Homo sapiens: one gene and its partners. The protein of the gene in region 1 interacts with the protein of each later gene in a pairwise test. Each region holds a gene or a part of one and is shown on either strand. Other genes may lie near its edges.

Region 1 (3,500 bases):
TTTTCTAATACCAACAACTTTCCAAACACACCTAGGAGCCTATCTCTCCCTCCCCACCCGATGAGTTCATGATGTTAAATTAATTGCATAATTCACCTAATTGACAGTATTGACAGATGGCCCTGTTAAGAGTAGAGTGCTATTGTTGGTACACAAGTAACATTTATTTTATTCTGGCACTGTAATTACAGGCAGTAAATTAAATTAAATATTAAGCATTAACTTGAAATCAATAGGGCAACAAATCTCATTATGAGAAAAAATGTATTATGCAAATTCTTTTCAGAATTTTATCATCATGAATAATGGCATCATTACGAGAACTATACAGCAGAGGAGGCAACAGAGTTTGAAAGAAACATAACACTCCAGCACATTCTGATTTCAGAATTTATGCAAAATATTCTTACAGTTTTAGTGTCAAAGAGGATTTGCTCAAAACTCCAGAGAAGCCTGTGACCCACCACAGCCTGGTTCCCCCTCGCCAACCTCCTCGGACTTTATTAAGGTCTGTCTGCTGAAGTGGCTCTGGGCCAGGACTGGCACAGACCAGACTTCCTGCTCCATTTGTCTTCCCGATTGTGCCTGATTTGTTGTTTCTGTTTCTTATCTGAATTTGCCTTGCCCTTAGGGAAACCAACAACTTAGCCTCGGCCTTCATGGTTGAGGGAATTCATCCAAAAGAGGCAATAAAAGGTTTTAGTCAGTAGAAAGAACAGTCTTCTCAGTGAGATAGGGCCACACTGTTCTCTCTCATTCTTCACTAAGGGCTCCTTCCTGGGTGTGTCAGACATATAGCTGGTTCTGACTCACTCACAACCTATCGTTTTCTTTTTTCTCTGACCATTGCCCTCATCAAAGTGCCCCCAAACAAACAATTTGGATCAGCCTCTTTATGAGTCCAGAATGACTGCCCTGCTATGGACAGCCTTAGCTAGCATTTCTTAACAAGGAAAAATAAGAGGCCATTAGGATGTTCCCAACAGACAGATTTCTCGTTCCTTCCAGGGCATTCTCCTCTTCTTTGCTTTCCTTAATTCCAGAGTGAGGAGTCGGTCTCCTCTTTCCCACGCGTGCTCACTCAGGCCTCTCCCAAGTCTGTGAGCACAGCCTGCAAACACCTGTACACAGCCTTCTGCATGCCACAGTCACTTCTCACTACAGCTGCCTGACAAACCCTGCTTGTTTTGCATCTGCTAAGTATTTCCTTATGGAGCTGAAGATTCCCAGAAGAAAACATTTGGAATCCAGAGGGAATCAAATATAAACTCCTGACGTGAAGGCCCAGGAGTAAGTAGCAGAGGCTGCAAACAAAATGTTTTAACCCAGGACCAAGGGGGCTTGGAAAATGTGGCAAATGTCCTCCGAATGGCTATTTGTGAACTCTCAGAGTACATATCAGCTGGTTGGAGCCTATAATAATTGGGTTATCCACTGTATTGAAATTTGCTTTATAAACAAAATTTAACAGGGCCATAGAACACAATGGGACCTTCCCTCAGATTTAAGCTCAATATTCCAGAATTCTCTGCCACCTAAGAGGCAACTTGGTTGAATCTTACTGACCTTTGTAAACACTCACTCCTTACCTGGTGGTTGAGCCAGAAGCTGGGAATTTCTGGTCGCCCTCGATCTCTCAACACGTTGTCCTTCATGCTTTCGACACAGGGGTGCTCCCGCACCTTGGAACCAAATGGAGGCTCATAATCTTTTACTTCTGTGAAGAAAGCCAGCAAACACAGGGTCACTGAGAATGGCATGTGCAGCCAAAGGAAATGAGCATGGTGAGATGCCTGGCTGGGGAGCATGAAGCACTAAGTAACAAATACATACGTAATTACTCTAAGAGCAAATTTTAATAATAATGGCTAAGATAAGAAGGAAGGAGTGGTTGGGGAAGGGCTAGAGAAGTATTCAATAAATGATTGTTGAGTACTTAAAATGTGCTAGGTGTTACGCTGGGGGACACAGTGGACAACAAGATAGAGAGGGTCACGGAGCTTAGGTTTTAACACAGGCATTTTCTACAGGGGGATATTGCAGCAAAAGGGTGAAACTGGTTCTTGGGAAGTGGAAAAATCTTATGTATTACAATGGTTTGTGAGCCTCCAAAGGCCCAGAGTATACAAAGAGATTTAAAATGTGGTATTAAATTTCATGTAGGTATTGAGGCATAAAAAGGAATGAAACTCTGGCACATGCTACAACATGGATGAATCTTGAAGACATTATGCTAAGTGAAATAAGCCAGACACAAAAGGACAAATATTGTATCATTCCACTTGTATGAAGTACCTTGTACAGGTATATTCAGAGACAGTATAATGGTGGTTGTCCAGGGGGCAACCTGGGAGGAAAGGGTACGAAAAGTTATCCTTTAAGGGGTAAAGAATTTCAGTTGAGCAAATTTCAGTACAGAAAAATGAATAATGGTGATGGTTGTAGAGCACTGCGAAGGTACTTAATGCCAGTAAACTGTACACTTAAAAATGGTTAAGATGGTACATTTTATATTATGCCTATTTTGCTACAGAAAAACATCATGGAGAGTAGTGTTTAGAAAAAAAGTTGTCTACAGGCCAGGTGCTGTGGCTCATGTGTGTAATCCCAGCACTTTAGGAGGCTGAAGGAGGATATCTTGACTCCGGGAGTTTGAGACCAACCTGGGCAACATAGCGAGATCCTCTATCTATACAAAATAAAAAACAAAACAAGCAAACAAAAAAAGTTGTTTAAAAAGGCTCCTTACGATATCACTGATTTTAAAAAAGGTTGAGAAATGCTGTTTTAGTGGGAAGACAGAGGGGACAGATTAACAACATCAACAAAATTTTAAAACGATAATTTTCCTCTGATGGTATATTCAATAAAGAAAATGATAAAGGAGGAGGTAACCCTTCACCGGGGCCTCAGGCTTCAACTAAGGTCAAATTCTTTATAAAAACTTCCTTGAACATCCTTAGGGTCAATCTTGGTTAGATATCCTGGGCAGGGCTCTATTCGTGCATATACCATATTTTATTTAATATATTCACCTGCTTATTTTTCTCACCTAACTGGACTGTGAGCATTTGGGTGCAAGTTGAGTCCCTTTCTCATTCTTGTATTCTTGGTGCCAATTGCAAGGGTCTCCCATGCCAACAGGCTGTCAACAAATGCTTTGTTGAGTGAGTGAATGAATGAATGAATGAATGAATCTTAGATTCTCTCCAAAGTGGCAGTGCATAAACTCTGGCCAAACATTAAAACAAAACACCAATTTAAATGAGCAGATTAATATAGTGTAAACAGAGCACAGGACACTTAAAAAGATAGAAAACATCCCAGTACTAAAACATGCCTGGGCTGAAAGGAGAGATTGGGCTGGATTCAACACTGTTCTCCAAAGTAAGTAGGATCTTTGGCCTTTAGCTTCAAAATAATCTTATTTAATGAGTAAAACTTTCAATACATTTGCACTTCTAGGTAACGAATTGAAGAAGCTTTCATGGCAAGATGAC
Region 2 (3,500 bases), on another chromosome or scaffold:
AAAGGCGTGTTCATCCATTTTGTATTGCTATAAAGAAATACCTGAGCCTGGGTCATTTATAAGAAAAGAGGTTTATTTGGCTCATGGCTTCGTAGGCTACACTAGGATCATGGCACCGGCCTCAGGCAGCTTCCAATCATAGGGCAAGGGGAGGCGGCACCACACATTGAGAGAGGGAGGGAGGTGCTGGGCTCTTAAACACCCAGCTCTTACCTAAACTCAGAGGGAGAACTCATTACTACGGGGAAGAAGCCAAGCCACTCACGCAAGGTCTGCCCCCGTGACCCAGACGCCTCCCACTGAGCTCCACCTCTAGTGCTGGAACACTGGGAATCACGTTTCTTTTTTTTTGAAATGGAGTCTCACTCTGTGGCCCAGGCTGGAGTGCAGTGGCGTGATCTCAGCTCACTGCAACCTCCACCTCCTGGGTTCAAGTGATTCTCCTGTCTCAGCCTCCCAAGTACTTGGAATTATAGGCGCGTGCCACTATACCCGGCTAAAGATCCATTTCAGCACATGATTTGGAGCAGAGGAAACATCCAAAGTGTATCAGAAGGCAAGGTGCTTGGTCCTTGGCCCTTTTTGGCCCGCCACCAGCTGTGGAGTAAATTTTCCCCTGCACGCTGGCCTGGATGTGGGGTTTTTGTTGAATAGGAAGCTGCCCTTAGAGCTTCTTCCAAGAGGTGCTCCCAGCTGTCAACAGCTCAGAGCCCTTGGACTATTTTTCTAAAAGGCCAGGAGGGCTGCTGGGAAAACAGAAATGCGGACTCACCGCATTATTGCTTCAGGCAAGTAATTCCTGGGGTCTCAATGTGGGGGAGACTGTACATTTAGGACTAGGTGTTTTGTGGGTTTTAGTTGTTCTCATTGAATCTGGAGAACTGTCTGTCACCAAGGAATCCCCTCTGTAATAGCTGATGGTGGTCTCCAGCTGTATCTCACATACAAGAGCTCACTCTCCAAGACTGGCCCTGATGAGAAAGTTCTTCCATGCTGAAGGGCCGGGCGCGGTGGCTCACACCTGTAATCCCAGCACTTTGGGAGGCTGATGCGGGTGGATCACGAGATCAGGAGATCGAGACCATCCTGGCTAACACGGTGAAACCCCATCTCTACTAAAAATACAAAAAATTGGCCATGTGCGGTGGTGGGCACCTGTAGTCCCAGCTACTCGGGAGGCTGAGCCAGGAGAATGGTGTGAACCTGGGAGGTGGAGCTTGCAGTGAGCCGAGATCGCGCCACTGCACTCCAGCCTGGGCAAAAGAGCGAGACTCCGTCTCAAAAAAAAAAAAAAAGAGTTCTTCCATGCTGAATTGCAATCAGCCTCACAGACACTGCCACACCCAGTGCCAGGTCTGATCCTGCCTCACTGTGACAGGCAGATCTTAGGGTTTAAGAGGAAGATGGTGTTCCTTCTGTGTTCCCCACGTGACATGGAGTCCAGTCCCTCAGGTCTGGTGCCTGCTGCAGACACTCAGAATATTGTGTTTCAGGCAGCCTGACAGTGGGTCCAGGGCCATGTCATGACACGCATGTTTATTTTGTCAGCAAGATGGCCGTTTGGACAGCTTGTCTCCTCAGAGGCTCTTGTTGATAGATAATTTTTTTTTTTTTTTTTTTTTTACACATGGTCTTGCTCTGTTGCCTAGGCTGGAGTGCAGTGGCACAGTCATAACTCACTGCAGCCTCAAACTTCTGGGTTTAAGCAGTCCTCCTACCTCAGCCTCTTAAGTACCTGGGACTAGAAGCATATGCCACCAGACCTGGCTAATTAAAAAAAAAAAAAAACAATTTTTTTTTTTGAGACAGAGTCTTGCTCTGTCACCCAGGCTGGAGTGCAGTGGCACAATCTTGGCTCACTGCAACCTCTGCCTCCCAGGTTCAAGCGATTCTCCTGCCTCAGCCTTCTGAGTAGCTGGGACTACAGGCGCCTGCCACCACACCTGGCTAATTTTTTTTTTTTAATTTTTAGTAGAGACCGGGTTTCATCATGTTGGCCAGGCTAGTCTCGAACTCCTGACCTCAGATGATCCACCCGCCTTGGCCTCCCAAAGTGCTGGGATTGCAGGTGTGAGCCACCATGCCCAGCCTGAATCCGTTCTCTTTGGGCAGAATTGTCGAGCCAGCCACACAGGCACTGGCAGCTGTGACCTGGTCCCAACGCTCCATCTGGTTTAGAAGCTGCTGTGAGCAGGTCACCCCTCCGGTGGTCTCAGTGGCAGGTCCAGTGTCCTTTCATACAACTCCCTTGCTGCAGGACTGCAACTGGCCCCACCCTCCCTGGGCATCTGTGGTCTGATTGGTTGAGGTTAACCTTTCTCCCACTTGGTACTTAGAGCAAGTCACAGAAAACATCCAAGGCATGTTGTACTAGAAAGCGGGGGCAACCTCAAGCACAAGATGCCATGACCTTGCCAAGACTCGCTGAAGGACCATTTTCTCTCTTGTTCCATTCCAGACTGAACCCGGTGCCTGGCTCCTACCCCACACAGAGCTGCCACCCTCACCTGTCCCCAAGCCACCCTGTGTCCCAGACGCAGCACGCCAGTGGTCAGAAGCTGGCCTCCTGGCCCTCCTGCACCCCCGGGCACATGCCCACCTTGCCTCCGTACCAGCCTGCCTCCGGCCTGTGCTATGTGCAGAACCACTTTGGTCCAAACCCCACCTCCTCCAGTGTCTACCCAGCTTCTGCGGGCACCTCCCTGGGCATCCAGCCCCCCACGCCTGTGAACAGCCCTGGCACGGTGTATTCTGGGGCCTTGGGCACACCAGGGGCTGCAGGCTCCAAGGAGTCCTCCAGGGTCCCCATGCCCTGAGAGAATTTCTAGGGAAGTCATCTCACTTGGCCTTCTGAAGGTCCTCCCTAAGAGTCTCCTGACAAAAGTTACTTATTGAACACCTCTATGTGCCAGGCTCTGTGTTGGGTACTTTGATCAATGCCCCTGTTTCAGTCTCATCTGTACTCACGGCAGCCCTGTGGAGTACGGTGTACTGGCCCAGCTTACAGATGCAGAAAGCGAGACGTTCTGCCATCAGATAAAGTCACGTGGCTCTTTAGTAACACGGACAAGGCTCCTCGCCAAGGAACTCGTGGCAGAAGAGGGCAGCAGTTGGCAGTAGCTGCCGATGTCTGTCCCCAGCTCCACCATTCCTCCCTGTGGCTGTGCCGTGCTCGTGGTTTCAGTGTCCGTGTGTCCATGTGTCTGCCCTTCAGGAGCTCGCAGCTGGTGTGCTTGGCGGTCCCAGGCCTGTGTAGTGTCTCTCCCCTGCTGCGGGCGCCCCCACCCCGATTCCTCTCCCCAGAAGCGGTGGGATGGGCCCCCATGAACTGCAGCAGCATGCTGAGGTGTCCATGTTGTCTGCCTTTGTATAAAGAAACAGCCTCTGACCTGCCGTGCTGGCGTGTGCTTCCTTTGTGGTCTGGCTGGGGAAGAGGGAGTGCGCTGAGATCTGGGCAGTGGCAATGTGTGGTGTGGCGGCAGAGAGGAGAGATGCACCAG
Region 3 (3,500 bases), on another chromosome or scaffold:
AAAGTGTTTAGACCAAGAGGTCCCAGAAAAACTCTTGGTCTCTTGGGTCTCAAATTTCATAATTAACCATTTCAGTTCAGGCATAAATTTATTCCTGATGGAGCTTGGTAATTTAGGAGATTTCTGGCAATTGATTCATGTGCTAATTTTCTAGGAATGAGATAAATACAGAGGGGACAGAACAGCTTTTTGTTGGTTTACATAGCGGTGTAAGACTTCTTTGGAGTCTTAATGTAAATGATAAGCCATTTCCCTCATAGAGTCTTATAGAACTGGGCTCTTTTTTTTTTTTTTTAATTTGACTTGTACCAGGATTATAAAACATATAGAAAATGATTCCTTCCGCTGTGCATAGAGTTTATCATCGTCTTTCTTCTGCTTGTCACATCCTTGCTTTTTAGACCATTTATCACCCATCACTCTGACTTTTCAGACCCTCATAATCCACATGATACTTATCCTTTTGATTAAAACAACTTAATGGCCTTTTCACGAATAATTAATCTGCTGTCTTTACTTTCAGCTCCAGGCTTTTAACTTTAATGTTGAGTTATCCAGCCTGTGTTGCCTTTCAAAGTTTCACTCCCCTTAGCCTTTTCCCCTCAAAGGTTTAATACTTCTTTAGAAACTTCAATAGTTGCTATACAAAGGTTTTAAAAAATGCTTCTGAGTTACTCTCACATCCCTTCTGCTGTGTATGAAGTGTATAACTGTGCAGAGATCAGTGGGATGAAATGAAAATAATTCAGATTTGCATATTCTGTCATTCTGGAAAATGTGGAGGCTTGCACTTTCAAGAAAAGTTAAAACTCCATTGCTTTTGAAGAAACAGTTGTGTATTATTTTGTGGTTATGTGTTTCTAACTCTAGATGTTTTTCTAACAGTGACAATTTATACCAAATGACATCCCAGCTTGAATGCATGACCTGGAATCAGATGAACTTAGGAGCCACCTTAAAGGGGTAAGGTTTTCTCTATTCCATTGCCTTTCCACAGTAACTTATACCTGTTTGAACCATTTCAAAGGTGCTTAGAACTTATGAAGAAAGTACAGTTTTAGAAGAAAGGGCAAAGCTCTCTGTGACATTAGAACGCTTTCCTCCTTCCCCTAGTTGGTGAGTTGTGTTCAGTATTAAATTTTCAAAAACATAAATGTGGGTTGTTTCTATCTGGAACAAGGAATATTGAGGACACTTATTATGGTCTTGTTGAATGTTTTATAATTCTTCAAAGGCTATTCAACCTCATTTAATAATTGTGTTTTACTATGATATCACAGTTGTTAACCATTCCACTATCTTATCAAGAAGTGCTTTGGGTGTGCAAAGTCCGGGATCCAAATTTGTATTTGTGTGATGCTGATCTGGGCAATTCACAGTCAGATACGCCCATACCTGATTGCACCAACAGGGTTTTTCTTTCCATACTTGATAATACAACCATAATAGGGAGAATACAGCCAGGAAACATCAGAAGGAGCTACTCTTTGCACCTAAAAATGAAAAAATAAAAAAAAGAAGGCAGGTGGGACTTGCTTTCACCATTGAAAGAGCTCACTTTTCATTTTCTACCAAGTGTGAAGAGATGGGCAGTAGCATAGAACACTCATGAAGTGCCTGCAGCGTGTCAGGTGTCCTTCCAGGTTACCTCATCTTATCTTCCCAACACTCTCATGAGAGCTAAGTACTGCTTGGTTTACAGATAAGTAAACCAAGCTCAGAGGGTTAAGTTACTTCCCAGGTTCACATCCTACTAAGTGCTAGAGCTGGGATGCCAAGTCCAGATCTGATTCCAAAGCCCAAGCTCTTTGCAGCCTCCGGTGGTGCCTTCCACCCCACCATTGGCCCCAGTGGGACTGGGGACTTAGTTCAGCACTCTTGATAGCTAGCTTGATGTCTCTGTGTATTGAGGGGCTTTTCACTGGATTCTGGGATCTGGGGGGCTTGCCAGATCCATGCATGCTCCATTCCCCACTCCCCACCTCTTCTTCTTTTCTAGAGTTGCTGCTGGGAGCTCCAGCTCAGTGAAATGGACAGAAGGGCAGAGCAAGTGAGTGGACAATGCGGAGATGGCAAAGCAAATGGCGTAGGCCTTGCTGACTGGCACCTGGGGCAATGCAGGAGTTAGGACTGACGTGGGTAATCAGGGTAGCATTTGGTGGATGGGAAGAATCTCTCTCCCCCGCCCCCACCTCTTCTTATTCATCATACACATGCTGGGGACAAAATGGAGGGAGTAGCATTTCTCATCAACATGCCCCTGGAAAACAATGTAAAAAATTATGCAGCATCCTGTTCATTTCTTTGTGAATACTTCACAAAATACTAAATACTAAATTTGTGGCATTACAACCATAATGCCACATGTTCCTGTTAGATCAGTCAAAGCTTTCAGTCTTAACTTGCTTCTTCTTTATTTACCTTTAAATCTCTCAGGGAGAACTTACCCTAAGTCTGAGGCCAGGCTTTGAAAAGACTTGTTTTTTGTTGTTTTTCAAAGTTTGTTTTTATTCCCAAACATTCGCACCTTCCCCAGCCCTGTACCCTGCACCTTGGGGAATTTCTGTAGCTGTTTCTTTTTCTTCTCTCTGCTTTAACTCCACAACCAGCCGCCCTCTTTTCTTCTTTATTGTGTGGGCCCAGTCCTGTTATTTGGTTCATCCTTCAGTAATCAACAGAGTTGTATTTCATCTTCCAAGACTTACTGTTAGGTTCTTCACCTCACCCCCGCCCCCAAATTTTTCAGCAGTTTTATCCAGATCTCCTCTTCCTCTCTCTGGACCACAAAGAAAAGGCTTTCTGTTGTTTTAAATTATTTCTCTCCTGTCTTCCATCTGGGGGACTGCTGACAGTTTTAGCATTCTGTCTTTCTACCCATTCTCTTTTCTTTTTGAGACGGAGTTTAGCTCTTGTCGCCCAGGCTGGAGTGCAATGGTGCCATCTCGCTCACCGCAACCTCCACCTCCCGGGTTCAAGCGATTCTCCTGCCTCAGCCTCCCCAGTAGCTGGGATTACAGGCATGTGCCACCACGCCCGGCTAATTTTGTATTTTTAGTAGAGATGGGGTTTCTCCATGTTGGTCAGTCTGGTGTCAAACTCCCGACCTCAGGTGATCCGCCCACCTTGATCTCCCGAAGTGCTGGGATTACAGGCGTGAGCCACCGTGCCTGGCCTTTCTACCTGTTCTTAACTCGTCTTAAGTTCCTTGGCTTCTTGGTCCCACCCTTTCTTTCTGGCTCCCTTCCTTTTCTCCTTTCTCCTCTCCTCAGAACTTGATAACCTTCCCCAAGCTAAATAGCAAGGATAGACAGAACATGATTGTGAAGTGAGCAGTACATTTCAGTTTCAAAAACTTCTTCATGCTGTAATACAGGGGCTTGTTTGTTCAGTTACAAAAATTACAGATAAGGAATTTGGCATGTATTTGCAGCTGGATATTTCCATGGTTAAGATAATTTCGATACTTTTTAAGGTCTTTAGACATGTACTGTTAGTCACTT
Region 4 (2,375 bases), on another chromosome or scaffold:
AGTCACACAGTTACCAAAAAGCAGAGACAGGGTTTGAACTCAGGCATTCTGATGCCAGAGCCCAGGCTCTCGATATTGCCTTTCATTTTCCTCCAGGAAAGGATTTACATGAGATGGCAGGTGGCTGGGGAAGCAGTGAGTACACACTCACGTTGTGAAGGCAGGGAGACTTGTGGGGGACTTGCTGGGAAGCTGAAGAGCTCAGGAGGATGAGGAGAGGGAGTGGACGGTTTAAAAAAGACAGTGTGAGAACAAGAGCCCTGAGCCAGAGGAGAAAATGACAGCCCTCTCCTCCCTCTGATTTCTGAGAGGTGTTCCTGCCCCCAGGAGTGAGGACACTGTCTTTCTCCTGTGTCAGGCTATTTCCCCATGGAAAGGAACTATATCTCCCTGATGGCCCTCACGGATGGCCAGGCCCCACCTTCCCTTTGTGGGCTTGGCACTGCCTTCCTTTCTCCACAGATCCTTTAGTTGCTTTAGTTGAGCTGCTCCTCTAGCAGCAGCTCCAGCCCAGGCAGCTCCTTGGGGCCAAGCCCTTTTCCAAGGGTCAGAAGCTGTGGGCAGGGCCAGGCTGAGGCCTCTCCTGATCCTGTCCCCCTGTCCCTGGACCTCACTCCCACAGGCCATGAAATTATTCACTGCGATCCGGGATGCCCTCATCACTCGCCTCAGAAACCTTCCCTGGATGAATGAGGAGACCCAGAACATGGCCCAGGACAAGGTCAGGCCAGGCGTCCTGGCTGGTGTGGGAGCCTGTGCAGGGAATGGAGTATTGGAACAAGCGAGATGGGGATTGGAAGCAAATGCCAAAGGCCCCCCCAGGCACATGCTAAGTAGGGAAGCCACTGGGCTGTATACTCACACTGGCAACAATGTGAGAGGCTGGGACAGGGCAACGAGTGGGAGAAATTTCCTCTGGTAGACTCGGAGAGTATTCCTAGCCTCTTCTGTGTCTCTCTCCAGGTTGCTCAACTGCAGGTGGAGATGGGGGCTTCAGAATGGGCCCTGAAGCCAGAGCTGGCCCGACAAGAATACAACGATGTGGGTCCCTGTGTTTTCCAGCTCCTTTTCAGTCCTTGACTTCTCGTCACTTCTCTGACCCTCCTAAGTCTTTGTTGGACAATCAGTTTTCCCTGGGTGACTTAGCTCTGTCCTTACTCTGGTGCTGGCTGGGGTTGATGGGGAAATATCCACACTGTACGTCTTGCTGGCAGAAGAACAGAATCTTTTCAGGTCCCAACGCATGTGCCAACACACATGCATGCATCCTGTGACTTGTCTGGGCGTGTTCATCTGTGTGCTGATATGTGTAAAGCCTGGGTGTGCTGTGTAGTGATGCCATTGGGCTGCTCTCTCCTAATCCCTGGATGCCTGCCTGTCAGGGCTTGCCTGTTTGGGGTCAAATGGTCCCATTGGTGTTTGTCAGCGTGCATCTATAGAAGTCTCTGTGTGCCCAAGTCACCTCCTGCCTCTTCCCCAGATACAGCTTGGATCGAGCTTCCTGCAGTCTGTCCTGAGCTGTGTCCGGTCCCTCCGAGCTAGAATTGTCCAGAGCTTCTTGCAGCCTCACCCCCAACACAGGTATGACAGCAGGGGAGACACAGGCACTCCATCCCAGAGAGACCCATCCATGATTCACAGGAAAGGAAGCCAGGGCTCAGGGCAGGCAGCATGAACAGTAATGGTAGTTGGGAGGGACTGTGTAGGTCTCAGGGTGGCAGGGCAATACGTGGTGGGGGCTGGAGTTCACATGTCCTCTTCCCACAGGTGGAAGGTGTCCCCTTGGGACGTCAATGCTTACTATTCGGTATCTGACCATGTGGTAGTCTTTCCAGCTGGACTCCTCCAACCCCCATTCTTCCACCCTGGCTATCCCAGGTATGGGTCACTCTGTAAGGGTAGGTAGGGAGTTTCCCAAGAGGGGCCGACAGGTGTTATGATGGATGGGACTTACGGTTGGAGAATTGGGGTCACAAATGCTGAGAGATTCTGGGGGTCAAATAAGCCCTTGTCTCCCTAGAGCCGTGAACTTTGGCGCTGCTGGCAGCATCATGGCCCACGAGCTGTTGCACATCTTCTACCAGCTCTGTGGGTAACAGGGGCCACTGGGAGGTGGGATAATAGGGAACCTAAGGGAAGACCACAAGGGAGGCCTGGAGGGGAAAGGGAGGTTATTTGAGGGTTTGAGGTGGGGCAGTCCTGGGAACTTTGCCATGCTCCTGGGAGCTGATTCAGTCTGTGGTACCACCCACATCCTCACCTAGGCAGCACCAACCCTATGTTCTCTTGCTGTATGTTCTCTTGTCCCATTTTCAACAGTACTGCCTGGGGGCTGCCTCGCCTGTGACAACCATGCCCTCCAGGAAGCTCACCTG

Evidence for each region.
Region 2: the proteins of TGFBR2 (region 1) and RHBDD2 interact in binary tests that used the Homo sapiens proteins (3 or more experiments, as listed by UniProt).
Region 3: the proteins of TGFBR2 (region 1) and WT1 interact in binary tests that used the Homo sapiens proteins (3 or more experiments, as listed by UniProt).
Region 4: the proteins of TGFBR2 (region 1) and KEL interact in binary tests that used the Homo sapiens proteins (3 or more experiments, as listed by UniProt).

What each region holds. Positions count from the first base shown.
Region 1 is NC_000003.12:30,686,601-30,690,100, reverse strand, and holds part of TGFBR2 (TGF-beta receptor type-2 isoform B precursor), read right to left. Parts: intron 1,718-3,500; coding exon 1,590-1,717; intron 1-1,589. UniProt on the Homo sapiens protein: Transmembrane serine/threonine kinase forming with the TGF-beta type I serine/threonine kinase receptor, TGFBR1, the non-promiscuous receptor for the TGF-beta cytokines TGFB1, TGFB2 and TGFB3.
Region 2 is NC_000007.14:75,885,534-75,889,033, forward strand, and holds the end of RHBDD2 (rhomboid domain-containing protein 2), read left to right. Parts: intron 1-2,458; coding exon 2,459-2,816; 3' UTR 2,817-3,393; downstream 3,394-3,500.
Region 3 is NC_000011.10:32,415,040-32,418,539, reverse strand, and holds part of WT1 (Wilms tumor protein), read left to right. Parts: intron 1-885; coding exon 886-963; exon of another isoform or gene 964-1,116; intron 1,117-1,999; coding exon 2,000-2,050; intron 2,051-3,500. UniProt on the Homo sapiens protein: Transcription factor that plays an important role in cellular development and cell survival. Recognizes and binds to the DNA sequence 5'-GCG(T/G)GGGCG-3'. Regulates the expression of numerous target genes, including EPO.
Region 4 is NC_000007.14:142,942,989-142,945,363, reverse strand, and holds part of KEL (kell blood group glycoprotein), read left to right. Parts: intron 1-622; coding exon 623-721; intron 722-963; coding exon 964-1,041; intron 1,042-1,480; coding exon 1,481-1,581; intron 1,582-1,767; coding exon 1,768-1,878; intron 1,879-2,020; coding exon 2,021-2,088; intron 2,089-2,319; coding exon 2,320-2,375. UniProt on the Homo sapiens protein: Zinc endopeptidase with endothelin-3-converting enzyme activity. Cleaves EDN1, EDN2 and EDN3, with a marked preference for EDN3.